Regions from separate parts of the Homo sapiens genome. Here all the other regions are linked to region 2. Evidence: fine-mapped expression QTL. A gene starts in region 2. Each other region holds a variant in brackets. All regions are shown on one strand. Distances are from middle to middle.

What was found. PIP is the estimated chance that this variant, and not a neighbour inherited with it, causes the effect.
Region 1: its variant is the best candidate, but not a certain one, in a credible set for the expression of CNIH3 in skeletal muscle (GTEx, PIP 0.55).
Region 3: its variant is the best candidate, but not a certain one, in a credible set for the expression of CNIH3 in whole blood (INTERVAL, PIP 0.67).

What each region holds. Positions count from the first base shown.
Region 1 is chr1:224,460,941-224,469,124 of GRCh38, reverse strand. It overlaps a transcript of CNIH3 not described here. Among named protein-coding and RNA genes, the nearest start is that of WDR26, 30 kb to the right of the region's middle. The variant G/A (reference allele first, on the strand shown) is at 5,045.
Region 2 is chr1:224,612,416-224,620,599 of GRCh38, reverse strand. CNIH3 (cornichon family AMPA receptor auxiliary protein 3) reads right to left here and starts at 4,283. Exons shown (of 6, transcript NM_152495.2): 1 at 3,345-4,283. The coding sequence starts at 3,425. It overlaps CNIH3-AS2 (CNIH3 antisense RNA 2), which reads left to right and starts at 4,373. Exons shown (of 4, transcript NR_183287.1): 1 at 4,373-4,402; 2 at 4,864-4,988; 3 at 5,173-5,396.
Region 3 is chr1:224,470,533-224,478,716 of GRCh38, reverse strand. It overlaps a transcript of CNIH3 not described here. Among named protein-coding and RNA genes, the nearest start is that of WDR26, 40 kb to the right of the region's middle. RefSeq lists a silencer at 4,558-4,727. The variant TG/G (reference allele first, on the strand shown) is at 4,352.

The DNA of each region.
Region 1 (8,184 bases), 150 kb after region 2:
TGAGTGACAGAACAAGACCCTGTCTAAAAAATAAAATAAAATAAAAAAGAAGAAAAGTCATATGACCATATTGATATAGAAAAAGCATTTTACAAAATCCAGTTCCCATTCACGTGCACAAAAAAAAAAAAGTTTCACAAACTAGGATTAGAGAGGAACTGACTCAACTTGATAGAGAGCATCTACCAAAAAACTACAGGTAACAGCATAATTAGTGGTGAAAGACTGAAAGACTGAATGCTTTCCCCCTAATATCAGGAACATGGCATCACCATTCTTTCTTTTTTTTTTTTTTTTTTTGAGACAGGGTCTCACTCTGTCACGCAGGCTGGAGTGCAGTGGCAGTGGCATGATCATAGTTCACTGCAGCCTTTAACTCCTGGCCTCAAGTGATGCTCCCACCTTCTCCTACCACAGACGTACTCTCATCATTCTTATTCAACACAGTACTGAAAGTTCTAGCCTATGCAATAAAGAAAGAAAAACAATAAATGCAGACAGATTGGAAAGAAAGAAATAAAATTGTCCCTATTTGTAGATGACAATTATCTACACAGAAAATCCTAATAAATCTATTTTTAACTGCAATTTTAAAAATTAATAAGGAAGGTCACTGGACACAGAATCAACACACAAAAATCAACAAACATGTAGAAACCAAAGCTGAAAACACAATACCATTTACAATTGCTACAAAGCAAATGAAATACTTAGTTATAAATCTAACAAAACATGTATAAGAGCTGTATGCTGAAAATTACAAAATGTTGATGAAAGAAATCACAGAAGACCTAAATAAATAGAAATACTGTGTTTATGACTTAGAAAACTCAACACTAAAAACATCAATTTTTCCCAAATTGATTTACATAATTCCTATCCAAATTCCAGCAAGGCTTCTTATAGATATAAATAACTTATTCTAAAATTTATATGGAAAGGTAAAGGACCTAAAATAGTTACGACAATTTTGAAAAAGAAGAATGTTGTAAGAAGAATCATTCTACCCAATGTTAAGGCTTACTAAATAACTTCAGTAATCAAGACAGTAGAGTACTGGTGGAAGAATAAATATGTAGATCAATGAAATATAATAGAGGAAACAATAGAATCACAAAAGAATGTACAACTGATTTTTTTAAAGAAAAAAGGTACAAACATGATTTAATAGAGGAAGGACGGCCCTTTCAACAATTGGTGAAGAAAAAAAAAAAGTCTGTAGGCCAAGAAAAAAAAAGAAGAGCCTCATACCTTTTACAAAAATTAACTTAAAATGAATCATTGATTTAAACATACCATGTAAAACTATGAAACTTTTGGAAAAAAAAAAAACAGGAGGAAATCTTCAAAACCTACGGCTGGGAGAACAGTACTTCAACTTGATATCAAAACTATGATCCCAGCCAGGCGCAGTGGCTCATGCCTGTAATCCCAGCAATATGGGAGGTCGAAGTGAGTGGATCACCTGAGGTCAGGAGTTCGAGACCAGCCTGGCCAATATGGTGAAACCCCGTCTCTACTAAAAATACAAAAATTAGCCGGGCTTGGTGGCACCTGCCTGTAATCCCAGCAACTCAGGAGGCTGAGGCAGGAGAATTGCTTGAACCCAGGAGGCAGAGGTTGCAGTGAGCTGAGATCGCACTATTGCACTCCAGCCTAGGCAATGAGAGCAAAACAAAAACAAACAAACAAACAAACAAAAACTATGATCCAGGAAAACTTGATAAATTGGACCTCTTAAGAATTAGAAAATTTTGCTCTGTGAAAGCTCCTGTTAAGAGAATGAAAAGAGCCAGGCATAGTGGCTCACGCCTGTATTCACAGCACTTTGGGAGGCAGAGGTGGGCAGATGGCTTGAGTCTAGCAGTTCAAGATCAGCCTCAGCAACATTTCCAGCAGTTCAAGAAATGTCTCTACAAAAAACAGAAAAAATTAGCTGGGTATGGTGGCACACACCTGTAGTCCCAGCCACGTGAGAGGCTGGGGTGGGATGATCACTTGAGCCCAGGAGGTCAAGGCTGCAATGAGCCATGATCACACCACTGCACTCCAGCATGGGTAACAGAGTGAAACCCTGTCTCAAGAGAATGAAAAGATAAATTACAGACTGGGAGAAAATATTTGCAAGCCAAATATCCAACAAAGGATTTAGTATCTAGAATATAAAGAATTTCCAAAACTCAACAGTAGAAAAGCAAACAATATAATTAGCAAGTGTACTAAAAACATTTCACTGAGGAGTAGATACAGGTAACAAGCTAATAAAAAGATGTTCAACCTCAGTGATTAGGGCAATCTAAATTAAAACCACAATGCATTATCACTACATGCCTAACAGAGTGATAAAATAAAAAATGTCAAATTCTGGCAAGGATATGGGAAAAACTGGATCACTCTTACATGGCTGGCAGGAATGTAGAATGGGATAGCTACTCTGGAAAATATTTTGGCATTTTCTTTTAAAACTAAAAGTGCACTTACCATACAACCCAGCAATTGCACCCTTGGGCATTTATCCCAGGCAAATGAAAACCTATATGCGCTCTGCAATCTATACATGAATGTTGATAACAACTCTATTTATAATAGCCAAGAACTAGATACCACCCAAATGTCCTTCAATGTATAAATGGTTGAAGAAACTGTAGTACATCCATACCACAGATACTACTCTGCAACATAAAGGAAAAAACTACGATAGAATTAGGCCTTGGCTGGTTCTCAAGGGAATTATGCTGATTGATTTTTTTAAAAAGCTACAGACTGTATGACACTACATAAGTGATTCCATTTACGTAATGTATTTGAATAACAATATTAAAAGATGGAGAACAGAAGAATGGCTGCTGGGGTTATGGACTGGGGAGAAAGAAGGTAGATGTGACTATAAAAGCATCAGGGAGGCTTATGGTGATGAAATGGGTCTGTATCTTGATTGTGGTGGCAATTACACAAAGCTACATGTATGATAAAACTGCATAGAACTACATACACACACAAATGAGTGCATGTGTAACTGGTAAAATCTGACTAAACCCTGTGGATTGTACTAATGCCAATTTCTGGGTTTTTGTTTTTCGTTTTTTGTGTTTTTTTGAGAAGGAGTTTCATTCTCATCACCCAGGCTGGAGTGCAATGGCGAGATCTCAGCTCACTGCAACCTCCGCCTCCCAGGCTCAAGCGATTCTCCTGCCTCAGCCTCCCGAGTAGCTGAGATTACAGGTGCCCGACACCATGCCCGGCTCATTTTTGTATTTTTAGTGGAGATGGGGTTTCACTATGTTGGCCAGGCTGGTCTCAAACTCCTGACATCAGGTGATCTGCCTGCCTCAGCCTCCCAAAGTGCTGTGGTTACAGGCGTGAGCCACAGCACCCGCCCAATTTCCTGGTTTTGATACGGTATGTAGTTATGCAAAATGTCAACATTGAGGGAGGAGGGGTGAAGGATGCACAGGACCTTTCTATACATTTATTTGCAATATCCCGTTTATAATTATTTCAAAATAAAACATCTAAAAAAGAAAACTGGCTGTTCAAGCAAAAATAATAGTATAGACTGTGGTTTATAACAAATGTGTAAGTAAAACGTATGACAACAACAGCATAAAAGCTATGAGGAGGGAAACAAAGGTAGACTCCTGTAAACTTATGTTATGTGTGAAGTGATACAATATAACTTGAAGGTAGACTGTGATGAGTTAAAGATAATTCTAACCAGCCAGGCATGGTGGGTCACACCGGTAATCCTAGCACTTTGGGAGGCCAAGGTGGGCAGATGACCTGAGGTCGGGAGTTCGAGACCAGCCTGACCAACACGGAGAAACCCCGTCTCTACTAAAAATACAAAATCAGTCAGGTGTGGTGGTGCATGCCTGTAATCCCAGCTACCTGGGAGGCTGAGGCAGGAGAATCGCTTGAATCCAGGAGGTGGAGGTTGCGGTGAGCCAAGATTGTGCCATTGCACTCCAGCCTGGGCAACAAGAGCGAAACTCCGTCTCAAAAAAAAAAAAAAAGATAATTCTAACTATCTTGGCTGGGTGCCTCAGCTTACATCTCTAATCTCAGCACTTTAGGTGGCTAAAGTGGGAGGGTCGCTCAAGTCCAGAAGTTTCAGACCAGCCTGGGCAACATGGTGAGACTGTTTCTACAAAAAATCAAAAAATTAACTGGGCCTAGTGGTACACACCTGTGGGCCCAGCTACACGGGAGGCTGAGGTGAGAATATCACTTGAGCCCAAGAATTAATGACTGCAGTGAGCTGTGATCACACCACTGCACTTCAGCCTGGGCAATAGAGCAAGACCCTGTCTTTAAATAAAATAAAATGAAATAAAATCTTTAAAAAAAAGAAGAATACAGCTGGAAGACTTATGCTACCTGACTTCAAGATTTATTTAAAAGCTACAGGAATCAAAACAGTGTGGTTTGGTATAAATAAGGAAAATAGATAAATGGAACAGAATATGGAAATCAGAAATAGATCCATACATAAATGGAGAACTAATTTTTTACAAAGGTGCCAAGGCAATCCAATGGAGAAAGGATAGTTTTTTCAAGAAATAGTTCTGGAACAATTGGATATCCACATGCAAAAAAGAAAGAAATGAACTTTGATCCATAACTCACACCATACATAAAAATTAGCTTAAAGCCAGGCACGGAAAAGTATTACCTATTCAAAAATTAAACTAACTAGCTGGGTGCAGTAGCACATGCCTGTAGTCCCAGCTACCTGGGAGGCTGAGGCAGGAGGATCCCTTGAGCCTAGGAATTTAAGAACAGCCTGGGCAACATATAGAGACCCCATCTCAAAAAAAAAATCAATTCAAAATAGAGCATTGACCTAAATGAATAACCTAAAACTATAAAACTTCTAGAAGAAAACACTGGAGAAAAATTTTGTGGCCTTGGGGCAAAGATTGCTTAGACATGACACCAAGAGCATAACCCATAAAAAATAAATATAAAGTGAACTCCATCAAAATTTAAAGGTTAAGCTCTTCAAAAGATACTCCGAAAAGAATGAAGACAATCCAGGTCGAGC[G/A]CGGTGGCTCACACCTGTAATCCCAGCACTTTGGGAGGCTGAGGTGGGCGGATCACAAGATCGGGAGTTCGAGACAAGCCTGGCCAATATGGTGAAACCCCGTCTCTACTAAAAACACAAAAATTAGCCAGGTGTGGTGGCATGTGCCTGTAGTCCCAGCTACTCGGGAGGCTGAGGCAGGAGAATGGCTTGAACCCAGGAGGCAGAGGTTGCAGTAAACTGAGATCATGCCACTGCACTCCAGCCTGGGCGACAGAGCGAGACTCCCTCTAAAAAAAAAAAAAAAAAAAAAAAAAAAAAAAAAAAATGAGGACAATTCATAAGCTGGGAGAAAAATCATCACAAAGCACATATCTGATAAAAGACTTGTATCAGGCCGGGCACGGTGGCTCACACCAATAATCCCAGCACTTTGGGAGGCTGAGGCAGGCGGATCATCTGAGGTTGGGAGTTCGAGACCAGCCTAACCAACATGGAGAAACCTCGTTTCTATTAAAAAATACAAAATTAGCCGGGCATGGTGGCACATGCCTAACCCCAGCTACTCGGGAGGCTGAGGCAAAAGCATCGCTTGAACCTGGGAGGCAGAGGTTGCTGTGAGCAGAGACCGTGCGATTGCACTCCAGCCTAGGCAACAAGAGTGAAGCTCCGCCTCAAAAAAAAAAAGACTTGTATTCATGCTAATAACTCCAAAAATTAATAACGAGAAAACAACACAATTTTTTAAATGGCCAAAGGATTTTTAACAAAACATTTTAACAAAAGACTGACCATCCCAAGAGTCAGCAAGGATATGAAGAAACCGGACTCTCACACATCATTGGGAATGGAAAACAGTACAAGCACTTTGTAAAACATTTTGGTAGCTTCTTAAAAAGTTAAACAGGCCAGGCACAGTGCCTCACGCCTGTAATCCCAACACTTTGGGAGGCCGAGGCGGGTGGATCACGAGGTCAAGAGATCGAGACCATCCTGGCCAACATGATGAAACCCCATCTCTACTAAAAATACAAAAATTAGCTGGGTGTGGTGGCACACGCCTGTAGTCCCAGCTACTCGGGAGGCTGAGGCAGAATTGCTTGAACCCAGGAGGTGCAGGTTGCAGTGAGCCAAGATTGTGCCACTGCACTCCAGCCTGGTGACAGAGCAAGACTGTCTCAAAAAAAAAAAAAAAAAAAAAAAAGTTAAACATATTTTGGGAAACCAAGGCAGGAATATCACTTGAGCCTAGGTGTTTTGAGACCAGCCCATGTCTACAATAAAAATACAAAAAATTAGCCAGGTGTGGTGGTGCGTGCCTGCAGACCCAGCTACTCAGGAGGCTGAGGTGGGAGGATCACCTGAGCCTGGGAGGTCGAGGCTCTGGTGAGCCGTGATCACACCACCACCCTTCAGCCAGGTGACAGAATGAGACCCTATCTCAAAAAAAAAAAAAAAAAAAAATTGGGTCCAGACCTAGTGGTTCACACCTGTAATCCCAGCATTTTGGGAGGCCAAGGCGGGCGGATTGCTTGAGGCCAGGATTTCGAGACCAGCCTGGCCAACATGGCAAAACCCCATCTCTACTAAAAATACAAAAATTAGCCAGGCGTGGTGGTGGGTGCCTGTAATCCCAGCTACTCAGGAGGCTGAGACAGGAGAGTCGCTTGAGCATGGGAGGCAGAAGTTGCGGTGACCCAAGATGGGGCCACTGCACTCCAACCTGGGTGACAGGGCAAGACTGTTTCAAAAAACAAAAAAAATTTAAACATAACAGGATTTTTAGGGCAGTGAAACTACTCTGTACAACACTACGATGGTGGATACATGTCATCATTAAAGGTTTGTCCAAACCCATAGAATGTACGACACCACATGAACCCTACATTAGGGTAAGAGTGAACCAACCCTACTGTAAACTATGGACTGAGTGATAGTGATGTCAATGTAGGTTCATTGATGGTAACAAATACACCAACGGTGCGGATGGTGATAATGGGGGAGGGTTTACATGGAGCAGGGCAGGGTGTATATGAGAACACCCTGTACTTTCAGCTCAATTTTGCTGTGAACCTACAACAGCTCTAAAAAGTAAAAGTCTTTTTTTTAAAAAAAAGGAAAGAAGTACTGATAAATGCTACAACGTGGATGAACATTGAAAACACTGTGCTAAGTGAAAGAAGCCAGTCACAAAAAACTATATACTGTATGACTCCATTTATATATGTCCAGAATAAGTAAATATATAGAAAAAGAAAGTACATGATTAGTGGCCTACAACTGAGGCATATGGAGGAGAGAATGGGAAATGACTGCTAATTGATATGGGTTTTCTTTTGGGGTGAAATATTCTAAACTTAGATTGTGGTGCTGGTTGTTGCACAACTTTGTTAATCTACTAAAAACCAATGAATTGTGTCCATTTTAAATGGGTGAATTTTGTAGTATGTTAAAATCTTAATAAAGATGTTTTAAAACTGTTTAAATCACTATGGTAACTGAAGAAATCATTTATGTAAGGTATATGCATGTGAGGAAGAGATATATACTCAGAAGTAAATACATACGTCCATAGGTTCAATAAATTCCTTTTAGTTATGATCTTAAATCAGAGGTAAGCAAAGGGAAGCAAGTGTGCCTTGTGTGCTGATACTATTCTATAGAATACTGGTATGCTTATCTCCCCTTAAAGAAAGGGGAGTAAAAGCCATACTGGCTATAAACTCATGTTGTTTAAAATGTATAATGCATCAAAAATAAGTCTGTATTAAACATCCTTTGTTTAAAATATACAATGGAGGCCAGGCACAGTGGCTCATGCCTGTAATCCAAGCACTTTGGGAGGCAAAGGTGGGTGGGTCACTTGAGGTCACGTGTTCGAAACCAGCTTGGCCAACATGGAAAAACCCCGTCTCTACTAAAAATATAAAAATTAGCTGGGTGTGGTGGTGGGCGCCTGTAGTCCCAGCTACTCGGGAAGCCAACGCACAAGAATTTCTTGAACCCAGGAGGTGGAGGTTGCAGTGAGCTGAGCTCGCCCCACTGCACTCCAGGCTGGGTGACAGAGTGAGACTCCATCTCAAAAAAAAAAAAAGAAAAAATTAAATTTAAATAAAATATACAATGAATTAAGGGTAAAGTCATAATAAAAACAACTGGCT
Region 2 (8,184 bases):
TATAAGCAGAAGTCTAATTTAAATAAATAGAATTTTCCTCTTTTAAAAAAGGATATATAGCATGTCTTGAGTCTGGTTGCTGTTGCTATTGTAACCCCAATCAGAAATTCCAACTCTAAAATTTCATTTATACAGAGAAAGGTAATCCTTTGGATATAAATTATTATCTAAGTTATGAATCCAAAAATAGTGACTACAGTTAGAGAAAGGGCTTAGGCTTAAGAGTCTCACAGACCTAGCTCAAGTCCATGCATACCAGCTCCAATACATATCAGCTGTGCAACCTTAGGCAACCTTGTAATCTCTCTGATCCAGTTTCCTCATCTGCGAAATGTCCGTTATGAGGACTAAAGGGCTGCCTGGGCAGTAAGAGGCCAGGTGCCTGAGGGTATGCAAAGCCACAGAAAAAACCTAGTTTTCTTCTGCTTCTTCCAAATGTGATAAATGTACTCAGAGATAGTAGCTGATATAAAATAAATGGGTAACTTGAAATATTTTCAACTGAAAACAAATGCAGATAAATTTTCAAAGTAAAAAACAAGACTTGAAAGAAAGGCTGGCCACATCCATCCTTGCTCCCAGACATCCAGTGGGAAAAAAGGGGAGGAAAACGATTGGACTGAGAGATCCTCTGTAAAGTACTTAAAACTTGTCCTACAGCAGACACCCAATACATAGTAGCTACCATCATTACCCCTAAGTAGGTACGTACAATTCAATAAGAAAAGCACGCCATCTTCATATCTTACAGCCTAGGCATGGCAGCATGGCAGGCATTTTAACCGCTATATGTTGTTAAGCGCCCAATTCATTTTTTGGGGTACTGATATATATCACACAATCAATATGCCTTGTCCGATCAAGAAGTACATAAGTAATATAAGAAGCTGGAAAGAAGGCAAACAGTCTAACATAAAACCAAGTCTCCTCAATTTTGGTTGAAATAATTACTACCATGTAACTAACACCCAGACATACAAACCGTGCCCTGAAATCAGGGTGTCTCTGGTTTCCCAGTTCAATGTTCAGGAACCAAATCAGTGTGATGGGGTTTGGGTTGTTTGATTTGGAGAGAGGGAAAGGGATAGAGAAGGAAAAGACTAGGAAAGGAGGGACTGAGACTATGAAATTATTACCGTAATTTGAAATCAAAACGCACAAATTCTTTTCATTATTAGAAACAAGAATCTTGCCACTTCCACGAGGAATCTGGATAAAACCTGAGTTGGAATTTGACTGCATTTCAGCCACCCCTCGATAAGGGGGTGAGCATTGAGAAGCTGGAGGATAGAGCCAGTGCTGGATGAGGGAACACCTGATTTTCATTCAAATGTCAACCAGCTGCACAAACCACTCAATGAAGCTGTTCTTGAATTATTAATCATCTTTCCCTGAATGAGAGAAAATGATTCTTTCTGGTTACTTGCTCTGCTTCAGGGACCAATTCAGAGAACTCCAAGCCAGACTCGAGTTTGAGGGAGCTCTCTGGTACCTGACACCCTCTGGCCAAGGCAAAAACAGAAAACAGCAAATGAAGTATTGCAGAAGAAAAGGGAGTAGTTGGCCTTCTAGAATCCAAGTAACTCCCCATATCCAAAGAAGCTGAGAAAGTTCCTTTAAAGCACATTAGCAGAGGTTTGCTGCACTGCTTGGGCATGATCTAATCTGTATTCCTTTCTATTCTAAATCAGGTAAGTTTCCTTTTCCCTTAAGAACTGTCAACAACTTCAAGCCTCAATTTTCTACTATAGATTAGACCCAGCCTTGCAGAGCAGAGAAGGGAGGGTTTAAAATCCCATTACTTCTAAATAGCGGAATTGTTTTAATCATCCCCCAAATATCTATGTTTGGATTCCCTGTCACCCCCAGATTCCTAAGTCTACTGATGCACGGATTTACACAATCTGAGAAATGGGGGAAAGCTTAGCGACTATCCAGGTCAATTTTCTCACTTTAGAGATGTGGAAGGAAGCCAGCAAGGGTCTTTCCTAAGGTTACATGATCGGAAGCCACCTTCCTCCCCGAGTTTCCCCTCTCCTCTCTGTCAGAGCCCTGTAGCAGGAGCTGCTCTAGCTGCTTAGTTCTATTTTAAGACAAACTCTCACTCTGCAAACCACTTATAGAAAACAAGGGCATCTCACCCACCCTGCAATTTTCTCCACGTCTTCATTTTGGGTCATCCCCACTGTATGAGAGTCTGTGATGCTCACCAGAACCATGCCTCCAAGAATTCGTCTCAGGGTCCTTCTCTGTCACCTAGACGCTGGGCAGGGCAAGGCTGTTAAAGGTGGGAAATTATGCACTGGGGTGCTCCTTCTAAACATTTGGCCTTGGCCATTCTTCCCACCAGCCCTCTGAGGGTGAGGATAGGGGGCTTAAACAACCTCAGAGAAGGAAGCCTTGAGAGTTGCATGCACTCGCTAAATGTTGCACAGTCTTTGAGAGGACCGGCGTACGCACTCCTGCGCGCTCTCTCAGTACTTCTCTTCCCCTATTCAGAAGCTTGCGCTCCTCTATTCCCACCCACACCTAAAGAACTGGGATCCACGGCTGCCCTCCACCTGGCGTAGCCCCGGGAAGGGTGACAGGAAGCTTGTGTGGGCTGGGGACGCTGGGGGCCTAGCGGAGGTTCGCCACCTGCAGGGGGTCTTCAGGAGTCGGACTTCAGACGCCAAGAGGGCAGATGGAGGACACCGTCGTCGCTCTCCACGGTCTCTCTTCGTGACTTTCCTCCATGGCCTTAATGATGCCTGCCCTTCCCAGTCTCCCTCGCCTCCTTGCTCTTCTCCTTCTCGCCTTTCCCCCACCGCCTTCCACTTCGACCCCCATCGCCTGGTCTCCTTCCTCTCCGTGGGCTCGGCTTCTCCCTACCTCTTACAAGGCGCTCCCGTCGTGTTTCCACTTTGTCTCCAATTATATCTAAATGCAACCCACCACAGATGCTGACATTTTAAATGTTTAGTTATTATAGCTACTTGACTAATTGCCGGGACCGACGGCGGCGCTTCTCCTTCGCCTCCCGCCGGCAGGAGAGGACGGGGCGGGAGAGGAAGGGGTTAGTTGTGGTTGTAGCCGCCACTCCCCGGCGCCCGGGACCCGGGACGCCCAGTCGGGCCCTGCAGAGGGTGTCCTACCTGGGCACCAGCGGCCCCTCGCCTCCAGCCAGGGCACCGAAGGCGCGCCCGGCGGGATGCAGCGAACTGCCTCCTGCCCCGGGACAGTGGAGCGGCAGAAGGTCCAACCTTCCGGTTCGCCCACGCCCGCAAGGTGGAAAAAGTGGGGTGAAATCGGGGAAATTTAGCGAAATTGGGGCGAAAGAAGAGAGACCAAAGCGTGTTACTCACGTGCCAGATGGCGAAGAAGATGAGCGCAGCGCACAGCACCAGAGACAGCATGTAGCAGAACGCAGCGAAAGTGAAGGCCATGGCCGGCGGACCCCAATCCCACCACACACGCCAAGAAGCCCCTAGGAGCCCGATGCCTCCCTAGAGGACCGCACTCCCTCCAAGGAGCCGCGTCTGCACGCTCCTCTCCAGGCTAGTGCCCAGGAGGGCGCACAGCTAGCGAAGCGACTCGAGGGTCAGCGAATAAGCGCTGGATTCCCGCAGGCTCCGGCGACCCCAGACCCGGCCCTCCGGCGAAGACAGGAAAACGTGTGTCGAGAGTCGCTGGAGGGAACCGTCCGCAAATCGAAGAAGAAACCAAATCAGCAGCGAACACCTGCAAATTAGTGCCAAGCTGTGAGCCCCTCGAGACCAACACGACAAGCGATGCGACGACTCCACGGAGGACCGAGGGAGGAGGTCCCATTCGCCCCAGGAAGAGCTCTCTGCTTTTCTCCACTAAACCGCTGAGGAGAGACGAGCGCTCCGCTCCGGACCCTCCCGCGCCACCGGGGCGCAAACGGATAGTGTCCAGCGAGGTGCCCGAGCGGCCTCCGAGCTCCTCCCAAATCCCAGAGCCGGGCAGCGCTCTTTCCCGAGAGAAGGAGTCTTTAGGTAGCCGGGAGGAGGTAGGTCCCGTTGGTCCTGCGCCCCAGACGCGGCTTCCAGCGCAGCCGTGCGCTCCGAGGCGCGCCCGTCCCCAACCGTGACTCCGGCCAGCCGGCCTCCGCAACCCAAGTGTCCCGGAAACCGGGGGTCGGACCGGGGCGAGCACTGGCTCCACCCAACGGGCCAACTCCAGCCCGGGTGGCTGCAGCAGTGGGTTTCAGGCCAAACGCTGTAGCTCGCTCCACCTGCTGCTGCCGCTGCCGCCGCCGCCGCCGCCGCCTTTGCCACTGCGAGAACTGTAGCGGTGCGACCCGGGATTCCCTCCTCTCGGCGCCCCACCCTCGACTCCTGTTCCGCTGAGCGCGCCCTCCCCGGCGGGCGGAGACTGCAGCGCCGGGGGCTGAGGAAAGGTGGGTGGCGAAGCGCCGCCGGGCGCTTGGTGGCCGCTGCCGCCGCCACTGCAGCTGTGCACGCCCGCCTCTCGGAGGAAACTTGAAGCCAGCAGTACAAGCAGGGCTGGAGGCCGAGCGGAGGTGGGGCGGGACCGGTTGGAGCAGGGACTCTTTAAACACGTGCGTCTGGAGGAGGTGGGAAGCTGCGGAAGGGTATGGTGTGTGCCTCGCGCCTAAACGCCGCAGCCGCCCCTCCCGGTTCTTGCAGTTTCGCCTATCGGAGTGGGAAGTGTGGGGACTTGGGGCGTTGCCTAGTGTTGGTTGGGGATACAGTGCAAGCCTTGGATCCCAAAGCTGCTTGGATGGATTTTACCAAACTGTAGCATACTCAGTGCTTAGGGCTGCGTTTACTGCTCTGCTCCCAGACCCTGCAAAATTCTCCATTAACGTCCTTCCGTTGCATCCTCTACCCTCCCCAGCCATCCGACCTTGGGACTAGGGAAACGTGGACTTGGTGGGCTATTCTGCGCTGAAGAGGCAGCAACGAGGGCTCGGTGGTATTGGTGTTGGTCCTAGTGGAATTGTCAAGAGGATGCTTTTGAAGGTAGACCGTTTTCTAGCTGCAAGTTACCTAACCTCTTTAATCCTTAGTTTCCTTATCAGAAAAACATAAATAAGAGTAGAGTCAAGCCATTTCAAAGGATTAAAAGGGAACATAAGTAAAAAACCTAGCACTTGGTATACGTTCAATAAGTGGTAGGGATTATTAATTGCACCCTTTCCCCCAGTGGCCCAGCATCTTGGAAGTTCACCATGCTTGCTTTGCAAGAGATTCCTGACGCTGCAGTGAAAGAGGTCCAGTCATTCCAGAGAGAACTTCAGTTTCAGACAAGTCATCAAATCCAGAAAGCAAGGAAAAATACCCTGAAAGACGACTGGCAAATCTCGGTGAAAGAGTAGACGCACTTCATGGATTGGAGTGAATCTTAGAGCACCTGGTACCTTGCACAGGGTGGGAACTAGATAAATAACTATTGCTTGATTCTGACTCTGGTGTGCTAGTTTTCCTGTTCACAGATGTGATTCCAATGCCTTGAGAGCTGGAAGGGATGAATTCCAGCAAGATAGAGATACAGCTTTCTAGTGACAGAACTGGAATCCTGTCTGCGGACTCCTAATCCTGGGCTCTTTCTACTATGCCCCAACATTCCTGCAGCTATTTGGCCACATCTTTTACTTATTTATTTATTTATTTATTTATTTATTTATTTATTTATTTGACGGAGTCTCACTTTGTCGCCAGGCTGGAGTGCAGTGGCGTGATCTCTGCAACCTCCACCTCCCTGGTTCAAGCGATTCTCCTGCCTTAGCCTCCCGAGTAGCTGGGACTACAGGCACGCACCACCACGCCCAGCTAATCTTTGTATTTTTAGTAAAGACGGGGTTTCACCATGTTGGCCAAGATGGTCTCGATCTCTTGACCTCGTGATCTACCCACCTCGGCCTCCCAAAGTGCTGGGATTACAGGCGTGAGCCACCGCTCCAGGCCCTTCAATTTATTTTATTTTATTTTTTTGAAGACAGTCTTGCTGTGTTGCCCAGGCTGGAGTGCAGTGGTGCTATCATAGCTCACTGTAGCCTCAAACTCCTTGCTAGGACTACAGGCATGCACCACCACACCCAGATAATTTTTGTTTTGTTTTGTTTGCAGACATAGGTCTCAATATATGGCCAGGCTGGTCCCAAACTCCTGGCCTCAAGCAGTCTTCCAGCCTTGGCCTCCCAAAGCGCTGGGATTATAGGTGTGCACCACAGTGCCTGGCCTCATATCTCCCTCCAGTTTAGAAACTAGATGCCTTTCAGTGAGAAGTGGAGAAATTAGAGCAAATCCAGAGGCTGATGACCAGAGCAATGAACCGATCTACATTTTATTGCCTCTGGGTCAGGACCGGCTACATACTTTGGAGGGCCAAGTGCAAAATGAAAATGTGGGACTTTGTATTAGGCCGTTCTTGCATTGCTATAAAGAAATACCTGGCCAGGCATGGTGGTTTATGCCTGTAATCCCAGTACTTGGGGAGGTCGAGGTGGGCAGATCACCTGAGCTTAGGTATTTGAGACCAGCCTGGACAACATGGCAGAAACCCCATCTCTACAAAAAATACAAAAATTAGCCGGGTGTGGTGGCATGCACCTGTAGTCCCAGCTTCTTGCAGGGCTAAGGTGAGAGTGTTGCTTGAGCCCAGGAGGTCAAGGGTGCAGTGAGCTGTGTTCATACCACTGCACTCCAGCCTAGGCAATAGAGCCAGACCCTGTCTCAAAAAAAAAAAACAAAAACCTGAGGCTGGGTACTTTATAAAGAAAACAGGTTCAATTGGCTCACCGTTCTGCAGGCTGTACAAGCACGGCACCAGCATTTGCTCGGCTTCGGGGGAGGCCTCAGGGTTGCTTTTATTCATGGTAGAAGGTGAAGCAGGAGCAGGCATGTCACATGGCAAAAGCAAGAGCAAGAGAGTGTTGTGGAGAAGTGCCACACACGTGTAAATAACCAGATCTTGTGAGAACACTCTCTTTATTGCGAGGACAGCACCAAGCCATGAGGGATCCACCCCCATGACCCAGACACCTCCCACCAGGCCCCACCTCCAACACTGGGGATGACATTTCAACATGAGATTTGGGCAGGGACAAATAACCCAAACTATATCAAGCTTCTTGATTAAAAATTAATAATTTCAAGACAGCAACAGCAGAACATTAAGCCAAGCATGAGGCCCTTCTGAGCACAAGACCCTGGACAGCTGTAGAAGTTGAATGCCTACAAATCTAGCCCTGCTCTGGGTTATACCCTATGTTGCTTTCTCTTTTACAGAAGTATTTCTTCCAGTATAAATTGTCATTAAAGAAAATTTGGAGGTCAGGCACTGTGGCTCATGCCTGTAATCTCAGCACTTTGGGAGGCTGAGGCGGGTGGATCACTTGAGGTCAGGAGTTCGCGATCATCTTGGGCAACATAATTAAGACCCGGTCTCTACAAAAATGAAAATAAAATTAGCCAGGCATGGTGGTGCACACCTGTAGTCTCAGCTACTCAGGAGGCTGAGGCCAGAGGATTGCTTGAGCCCAAGAGGTCAAGGCACAGTGAGCTGTGATCATGCCACTGCACCCCACCTCGGGTGACAAAGCGAGAGCCTGTCTCAAAAATATAAAATAATTTGGAAAATATAAAAATGAAAAAGATAAACACCACAGTTTGCTGCTCTCAGATACCACCAACACAATCCTGGTGTATTTCTTTCTAGCTGTTTTTTTGCTTTTTATTTTATATAGATCATTTCTTTTCATTGTAGTAATTGTACTGTATAAAATTTCGTGACACCAAAATTCTGAGTCCCTTTGGGACCTCTCTGATCTTTTGTTTCTGCTGGTTCTTGTTTACGGAGTCCTCGCTTCTTATCCATCTAGTAGATTTTTACTGTGCCAAACTTGTTTTGAAAAGTTTTCTTACAGTCATTTGAGGCCTAAAATTATGTTATCTTTCTCCAGGGAGGATTTTCAACTTCTTTTGCCAGGTATCTAGGGGAACCTAGTGCTCCAGGATTACCTTAATCCAAATTCAGCATTTGAGATTTTCCAGGATGACCAAGATAACTGTGGTCTGTGTGAGGGCTGCTTTATTTCTGGTTCAGCCTTACTCACATGGAGCTGTCCTTCTGGATCCCAAGTCAAAACACAGGGCTTATCAAGTCCCAACCCTTGATGGTCCTTGGACTCTGACTTTTGCCCCTAGCGCCACAGAG
Region 3 (8,184 bases), 140 kb after region 2:
ATACACTGATGAACATCCACAAACATCAAGACTATCCAGGACCTCAGCAAACGAACTAAATAAGGTACCAGGAACCAATCCCAGAGAGACAGAGATATGTGACCTTTCAGACGGAATTCAAAATATCTGTTTAGAGAAAACTCAAAGAAATTCAAGATAATACAGAAAATGTATTCAGAATCCTATCCCATAAATTTAACAAAAATTGAAATAATTAAAAATAAGCAGAAATTATGGAGTTAAAAAATGCAATGATCTACTGAAGAATGCATCAGAATCTCTTAATAGCAGAACTGATCAAGCAGAAAAAAGAATCCGTAAGCTTGAGAAGAAGCTATTTGAAAATACACGGAGGAGACAAAATAAAAAAGAATGAAGCATGCCTACAAGATCTAGAAAATAACCTCAAAAGGGCAAATCTAAGAGTTATTGGCCTTAAAGAGAAGGTAGAAAAAGAGATGGGGGTAGAAAGTTTATTCAAGATGATAATAACAGAGAACTTCCAAAACCTAGAGAAAGATAACAATATTCAAGTACAAAAAGGTTGTAGAAAACCAAGCATATTTAACCCAAAGAAGACTACATCAAGGCATTTAATAATCAAACTCCCAAAGGTCAAGGAAAAAGAAAGGATTCTAAAAGCAGCCAGAGAATAGAAACAAATAACATACAATGGCAATATGTCTGGCAGCAGACTTTTCAGTGGAAACATTACAGGCCAGGAGAGAGTGGTATGACATATTTAAAGTGCTAAAGGGAAAAACTTTTACTCTAAAATAGTATATCTGGAAAAAAAAATCCTTCAAACATAAAGGAGAAATAAAGACTTTCCCAGACAAACAAAAACTAAGGGATTTCATCAATACCAGACCCTTCCTACAAGAAATGCTAAAGGGAGTTCTGCAGCCTGAAAGGAAAAGACATTAATAAGCAATAAGAAATTATCTGAAGGTACAAAACTCTCTGGTAACAGTAAGCACACAGAAAAACACAGAATGTCATTAACACTGTAATTGTGGTATGTAAACTACTCATATCTTAAGTAGAAAGACGAAAAGATGAACTGATCAACAAAAATAACTAAAACAACTTTCATGACATAGACAGTATAATAAAATATAAACAACAATAAGTTAAAATGCAGGAAGACAAAGTTAAAGTGTAGAGTTTTTATTAATTTTGGGGGTTTTGTTCATTTGTTTTTTGCTTGTTTGTTTATGCAGGCAGCATTGTCATCAGTTTAAAATAATGGGTTTGTGGGCATTTCAGTTACTCCATCTAAACTATAGGACTGGATTTGGGGTTCTCCAATATAAGCAGGCAGAAGAATCTCCTAAAGAATTTGTTTGAAATTCAGAATTCGACTTAGGAGATTAAGATGGTGGATACGAGGAAAGACTAGCTTGCGCGTCCCACTCAGATGGACAGAACAGCATGTGGAGACTCACATCGTGAACTTTTGCTCCAAGAACTACCATAGGAACATACCAAGAAAGCCGAAAGAATCCACACACCCTTTGAAGGAACTTCATCACCCCTGCAGGCTCCCTGAGATGCCAAAAAACTGTGAGTCCGCTTGCTTTCTCAATGGGGAGGCTCATGGGGAGGCTGCTTGCTTTCTCAATGGGGCAAGTTCTCAGCCCTGGTCACCAGCTGCTTAGAAATAAACTTGGTGCTGTTGCAGGGGCATGGTGGGAGTAAGATCAGCTTTAGGACTGTGGGCTGCTTGGGAGCAGGGTGAGGCCTGTAACTGCCGGCTTTCCCCCAGTTCCCTAGCAACCTGTACCTCGCATCTCAAAACTAACATTGAATGTAAATGTCCTAAACACTCCACCTAAAAGACACAGAATGTTCTTTTTGCTTAGGATAGCTTTGGCTATTCCAGGTCTTTTGTGGTTTCATATAAATTTTAGGATTTTTTTTTCTATTTCTGTGAAGAATATCATTGGTATTTTGATAGAGATTGCATTGACTCTGTAGATTGCTTTGGGTGGTATGGATATTTTAATAATATTGATTCTTCCAGTCCATGAACATGGACTATCTTACCAGTTTTTGGTGTCTTCTTCAGTTTCTTGCATCAGTGTTTTATAGTTTTCATTGTAGAAATCTTTCACTTATTTGGTTAAATCCTAAGTATTTAACCCATTTCCTATTCAGACAAAAAAAGTGCAGCTCGCTGCCAGTGCTCATTTCTCAGGGCAAATGGGTAATGGGTTAAATTTATTTGTAGCTATTGTAAATGGTATTACTTTCTTGATTTCTTTTTCAGATTGTTCACTGTTGGCATATAGAAATGCTACTGATTTTTGTATGATGATTTTGTATCCTGAAACTTTACTAAATTTGTTTACCAGTTCTGATAGTTTTCTTAGTGGAGTCTTTAGGTTTTTCTGAATATTAGATGTATTATCTGCAAACAAGGCTAATTTGACTTCCTCCTTCAATTCTGATGTCCTTTATTTCTTTCTCTTGTCTGTTTGCTCCAGTTAGGACTTGAATAACAGTGGTGAAAGTGGGCATCCTTGTCTTGTTCCAGATATTTGAGGAAATGCTTTCAGTTTTCTACTTTAAGTATGATATTAGCTGTGGGTCTGTCCTAGATGGCTTTTATTGTATTGAGGTATGTTCCTTTAATACCCACTTTTTTGGAGGATTTTTATCATGAAGGGATGTTGAATTTTTTCGAATGCTTTTTCAGCATCAACTTAAATGATCATATAGTTTTTGTCCTTCATTCTGTTGATATGATGTATCACACTGACTGATTTGCATATGTTGAAACATCCTTGCATCCCTGGGATAAACCCCACTTGGTAATGATGAATGCTTTTTTTAATGTGTTGTTGAATTTGGTTTTCTACTATTTTGTTGAGGATTTTTGCATCAATGTTCATGAGGAATATTGGCCTGTAGTTTTCTTTTATTGGTGAGGCTTTGTCTAGTTTACTGGTAATACTGGCCTCATAGTGCATAGTTTACAAGTATTAGGTTTACAAGTATTCCCTCTTCCTCTATTTTTTGGAATCATTTGAGCAGGGTTGGTATTATCAGTTTTAAAATATTTGGTAAAATTCAGCAGTGAAGCCATCAGGTTCCAGGCTTTTCTTTGCTGACGAAATTTTTATTATGGCTTCAATCTCATCACTTGTTATTTGCCTGTTCAGGTTTTGGATTTCTTCATGGTTCAGTCTTGGTAGGTTGTATGTATCTAGGAATTTATCTGTTTCTTCTAGACTTTCCAATTTATTAGCATATAATTGCTCATAGCCACTAATCATCCTTTGAATTTGGCAGTATCCGTTGTAATGTCTCCCTTGTCATCTCTGATTTTCTTTTCTTTTCTTTTCTTTTTTTTTTTGAGATGGAGTCTCGCTCTGTCGCCCCGGCTGGACTGCAGTGGCGCAATCTCGGTTCACTGCAAGCTCCGCCTCCTGGGTTCATGCCCTTCTCCTGCCTCAGCCTCCCGAGTAGCTGGGACTACAGGCGCATGCAGCCACGACCAGCTAATTTTCTGTAGTTTTAGTAAAGACGGGGTTTCACCATGTTAGCCAGGATTGTGTTGATCTCCTGACCGTGATCCGCCCGCCTCTACCTTCCAAAGTGCTGGGATTACAGGCTGAGCCACCGCGCCCAGCCTCTGATTTTCTTTTTTTTTTTTCTTTTTTTTTTGAGATGGAGTCTCCTTCTGTCGCTCAGGCTGGAGTGCAGTGGCACGATCTCGACTCACTGCAAGCCCCGCCTCCCGGGTTCACGCCATTCTCCTGCCTCAGCCTCCCAAGTAGCTGGGACTACAGGCGCCCGCCCACTGCCACGACCGGCTTTTTTTTATTTTTATTTTTTTGTATTTTTTAGTAGAGACGGGGTTTCACCGTGTTAGTCAGGATGGTCTCGATCTCCTGACCTTGTGATCTGCCCGCCTTGGCCTCCCAAAGTGCTGGGATTACAGGCGTGAGCCACCGGCCCGGGCTCCGATTTCCCTTATTTGGGCCTTCTTTCTTTTTTTCTTAGTCTGGATAAAGGTTTGTCAATTTTATCTTTTCAGAAAACCAACTTTTTGTTTCATTGATCTTTTGTATTGTTTTCTTCATTTCAATCTCACTTATTTCTGCTCTGATCTTTATTATTTCTTTTCTTCTACTTATTTTGGGTTTGGTTTGCTCTTGCTTTTCTAATTCTTCAAGATACATCATTATATCGTTTATTTGAAGTTTTTCTTCTTTTTTGATGTAGGCACTGATACCCATAAACTTCCCTTTTTTGATGTATGTCATAGTTTTTGGTATGTTGTGTTTCCACTATCATTTGTTTCAAGAAAACTTTTTCTTGAAAAACTTTTTTTTTTTTTTTT[TG/G]AGGCGAAGTTTTGCTCTTGCTGCCCAGGCTGTAATGCAATGGCACAATCTCGGCTCACCGCAACCTCTGCCTCCTGGGTGCAAGTGATTCTTCTGCCTCAGCCTCCCAAGTAGCTGGGACTACAGGCATGCACCACCATGCCCAGCTAATTTTGTATTTTTAGTAGAGACGGGGTTTCTCCACGTTGGTCAGGCTGGTCTTGAACTCCTGACCTCACATGATCTGCCCACCTTGGCCTCCCAAAGTTCTGGGATTACAGGCATGAGCCACTGTGCCTGGCCAAAACTTTCGTTTTTTTATCTCTTCATTGACCCACTGGTCATTCAGGAACATACTGTGTAATTTCCTTGTGTTTGTATAATTTCCAGAATTCCTCCTGTTATTGGTTTTTAGTTTTATTTTATTGTGGTCAGAGAAGATATTTGATATTATTTCCATTTTTTGAATGTTTTAAGACTTGTTTTGTACCCTAACATAGGGTCTTTCCTTGTGAATGATCCATGTGCTAAGGAAAAGAATGTGTGTTCTGCAGCCATTGGATGAAACGTTCTGTAAATATCTATTAGGTCCATTTGGTCTATAGTGCAGATTAAATCCAATGTTTCTTTGTTGATTTTCTGTCTAGGAGATGTGCCCAATGCTGGAAGTGGGGTGTTGAAGTTTCCAGCTATTGTTGTCTCTCTCTCTCTCTCTTTAGCTCTAGTAATATTTCCTTTACATACCTGTGTGCTCTCATGTTGGATGCATATATATTGATAATTGTTATATCCTCTTGCTGAACTGACCTCTTTATCATTATATAATGACCTTTTTGTCGCTTTTTATAGTTTTTGTATTGAAACCTATTTTGTGTGATATAAGTATAGCTACTCTTGCTCTTTTTAGGTTCCCATTTGCATAGAAGTGGTGAAGTGTATTTCTTTTAGGCATCAGATCACTGGGTCTTGTTTTGTTTTGTTTTGTTTTTAATCCATTCAGCCACTCTATGCCTTTTGATTGTTGAGTGTAGTCGATTACCAATTACTTATTTTATTGATAAGTAAGGACTTATTCCTGTCATTTTGTTGTTTCCTGGTTGTTTTATGGTCTTCTCTTATTTCCTTCCTTCCTGTCTTCCTTTTAGTGAAGGTGATGATTTTCTTGTGGTATGTTTTAATTTTTTGCTTTTTAATTTTTGTGTATCCATTGTACGTTTTTAAATTTGAGGTTACCATGAGGCTTGCAAATAATATCTTCCAAACCCATTATTTTATTTATTTTTTTAAATACAAACTAAGGCTTTTTCTTCAATTATCTCTATCATCCACAGTAAAAGGAAATAAGTCACCTGCAACTGATGCCAAACCCTCCTGCCAATGAGAGATAAGCAGCTCTGGGTAATTTCACATAGCCCAGCAAAGACAGTTTCCTTGAATTCTTATGAAAAATTGGCCCTAAAATCTATCAGGATGACTTATTCATGAGAATCATCTGAGATACCCATTATAAATATAGTTGTCCAGAATCTTAGGTGGTTGTGGGAGAGGAAAGCTCCTGTAATTCTGAATTTTGTGGTTTTTGATTTTTAATTTTTTTATTTCAATAGGATTTTTGGGGAACAGGTGGTGTCTGGTTACATGAATAAGTTCTTTAGTGGTGATTTCTGAGATTGTGGTGCACTCATCACCCTAGCAGTGTACACTGTGCCCAGCGTGTAGTCTTTTATCCCTCACCATCCTCAATCCTTTTCCCCAGGTCCCCAAAGTCCAATGTATCATTCTTATGCCTTTGCGTCCTGATAGCTTAGCTCCCACATATTAGTAAGAATATATAATGTTTGGTTTTCCATTCCTGAGTTACTTCACTTAGAATAATAATTTCCAATTCCATCCAGGTTGCTGCGAATGTCATTATTTCTCTCCTTTTTATGGCTGAGTAGTATTCCATGATGTATACATATATACCATGTTTTCTTTATCCACTTATAGATTAATGGACATTTGGGCAGGTTCCATATTTTTGAAATTGTGAATTGTGCTGCTATAAACATGCATGTGCAAGTATCTTTTTTATATAATGACTTCTATTATCATATAGAAAATGTGATATCACTTCATTTTAAATGGTTTTTATGCAAAAGACAGGCAATAACAAATGCTGGTGAGGATGTAGAGAAAAGGGAATCCTTATACACTGCTGGTGGGAATGTAAATTAGTACAACCACTATGAAGAACAATTTGGAGGTTCCTCAAAAAAACAAAAATAGAGCTATCATATGATCCAGACATCCCATTGCTAGGGAAATACCCACCCTCCCAAAAAAAGGAAATCAGTATATCGAAGAGATATCTGCACTTCCATGTTTACTGCAGCACTATTGACAATAGCCAAGATTTGGAAGCAACCTAAGTGTCTATGAACAAATGAATGGATAAAGAAAATGTGGTACATATACACAATGGAGTACTATTCAGCTATAAAAAAAAGAATGAGAGGCCGGGCACGGTGGCTCACACCTGTAATCCCAGCACTTTGGGAGGCCGAGGCCGGTGGATCATGAGGTCAGGAGTTCAAGACCAGCCTGGCCAAGATGGTGAAAGCCCGTCTCTACTAAAAATACAAAAAAATTAGCCAGGCATGGTGGCAGGTACCCGTAGTCCCAGCTACTTAGGAGGCTGCAGCAGAGAACTGCTTGAACCCAGGAGGCGTAGGTTGCGGTGAGCCGAGATCACGCCACTGCACTCCAGCCTGGGTGACAGAGCGAGACTCCATCTCAAAAAAAAAAAAAAAGAGAGAATGAGATTCTGTCATTTGCAACAACATGAACAGAACTGGAGGTAGTTATGTTAAGGAAATAAGCTAGGCACTGAAAGACAAACTTTGCGTATTCTTACTTATTTGTAGGAGCTAAAGATTAAAACAACTGAACTCATGGAGATAGAGCGTACAATGATGGTTACCAGAAGCTGGGAAGGGTAGTGGGGGAGTGGGGAGGAAGAGGGGATGGTTAATGGGTACAAAAAAATAGAATGAATGAATAAGAGCTAGTATTTCTGCCAGGCACTGTGGTTCACGCCTGGAATCCCAGCACCTTGGGAGGCCAAGGCGGGCAGATCACATGAGGTCAGGAGTTCTGGTCTCGAACTCCTGACCCTGTCTCTACTAAAAATATAAAACATGAGCTGGATGTGGTGGCGTATGCCTATAGTCCCAGCTACCCGGGAGGCTGAGGCAGGAGAATCACTTGAACCCAGCTTGCAGTGAGCTGAGATTGTGCCACTGCACTCCAGCCTGGGCAACAGAACAAGACCTCATCTAAAACAAACAAACAAACAAACAAAAAACCTAGTATTTGCTAGCACAACGAGGTGACTATAGTAAAAAATAATTTAATTGTACACTTTTAAATAATTAAAAGAGTACAACTAGATTGTTTGTAACACAAACGATAAATTCTTGAGGTTATGGATATCTCATTTATCCTGATGTGATTATTACATATTGTATGTCTGTATCAAAATAGCTCGTGTACACCATAAATATACATACCTACTATGTACCCCCAAAAAAGAAACAATGCAAGCAAGAAGACAATGGAACAACATCTTTAAAGAACTGAAAGAGATGGCCAGGCATGGTGGCTTGTGCCTGTAAACCCAGCGCTTTGGGAGACCGAAGTGGGAGGATCACTTGAGCCCAAGAGTTCAAAACATAGGCAGATCCCATTTTTACAAATAAACAAAAAACAATAACAACTGAAAGAGGGCTGGGTGTGGTGGCTCACACCTGTAATCCCAACACTTTGAAAGGCCGAGGCAGAAGGGTCACTTGAGGCCAGGAGCTGAAGACCA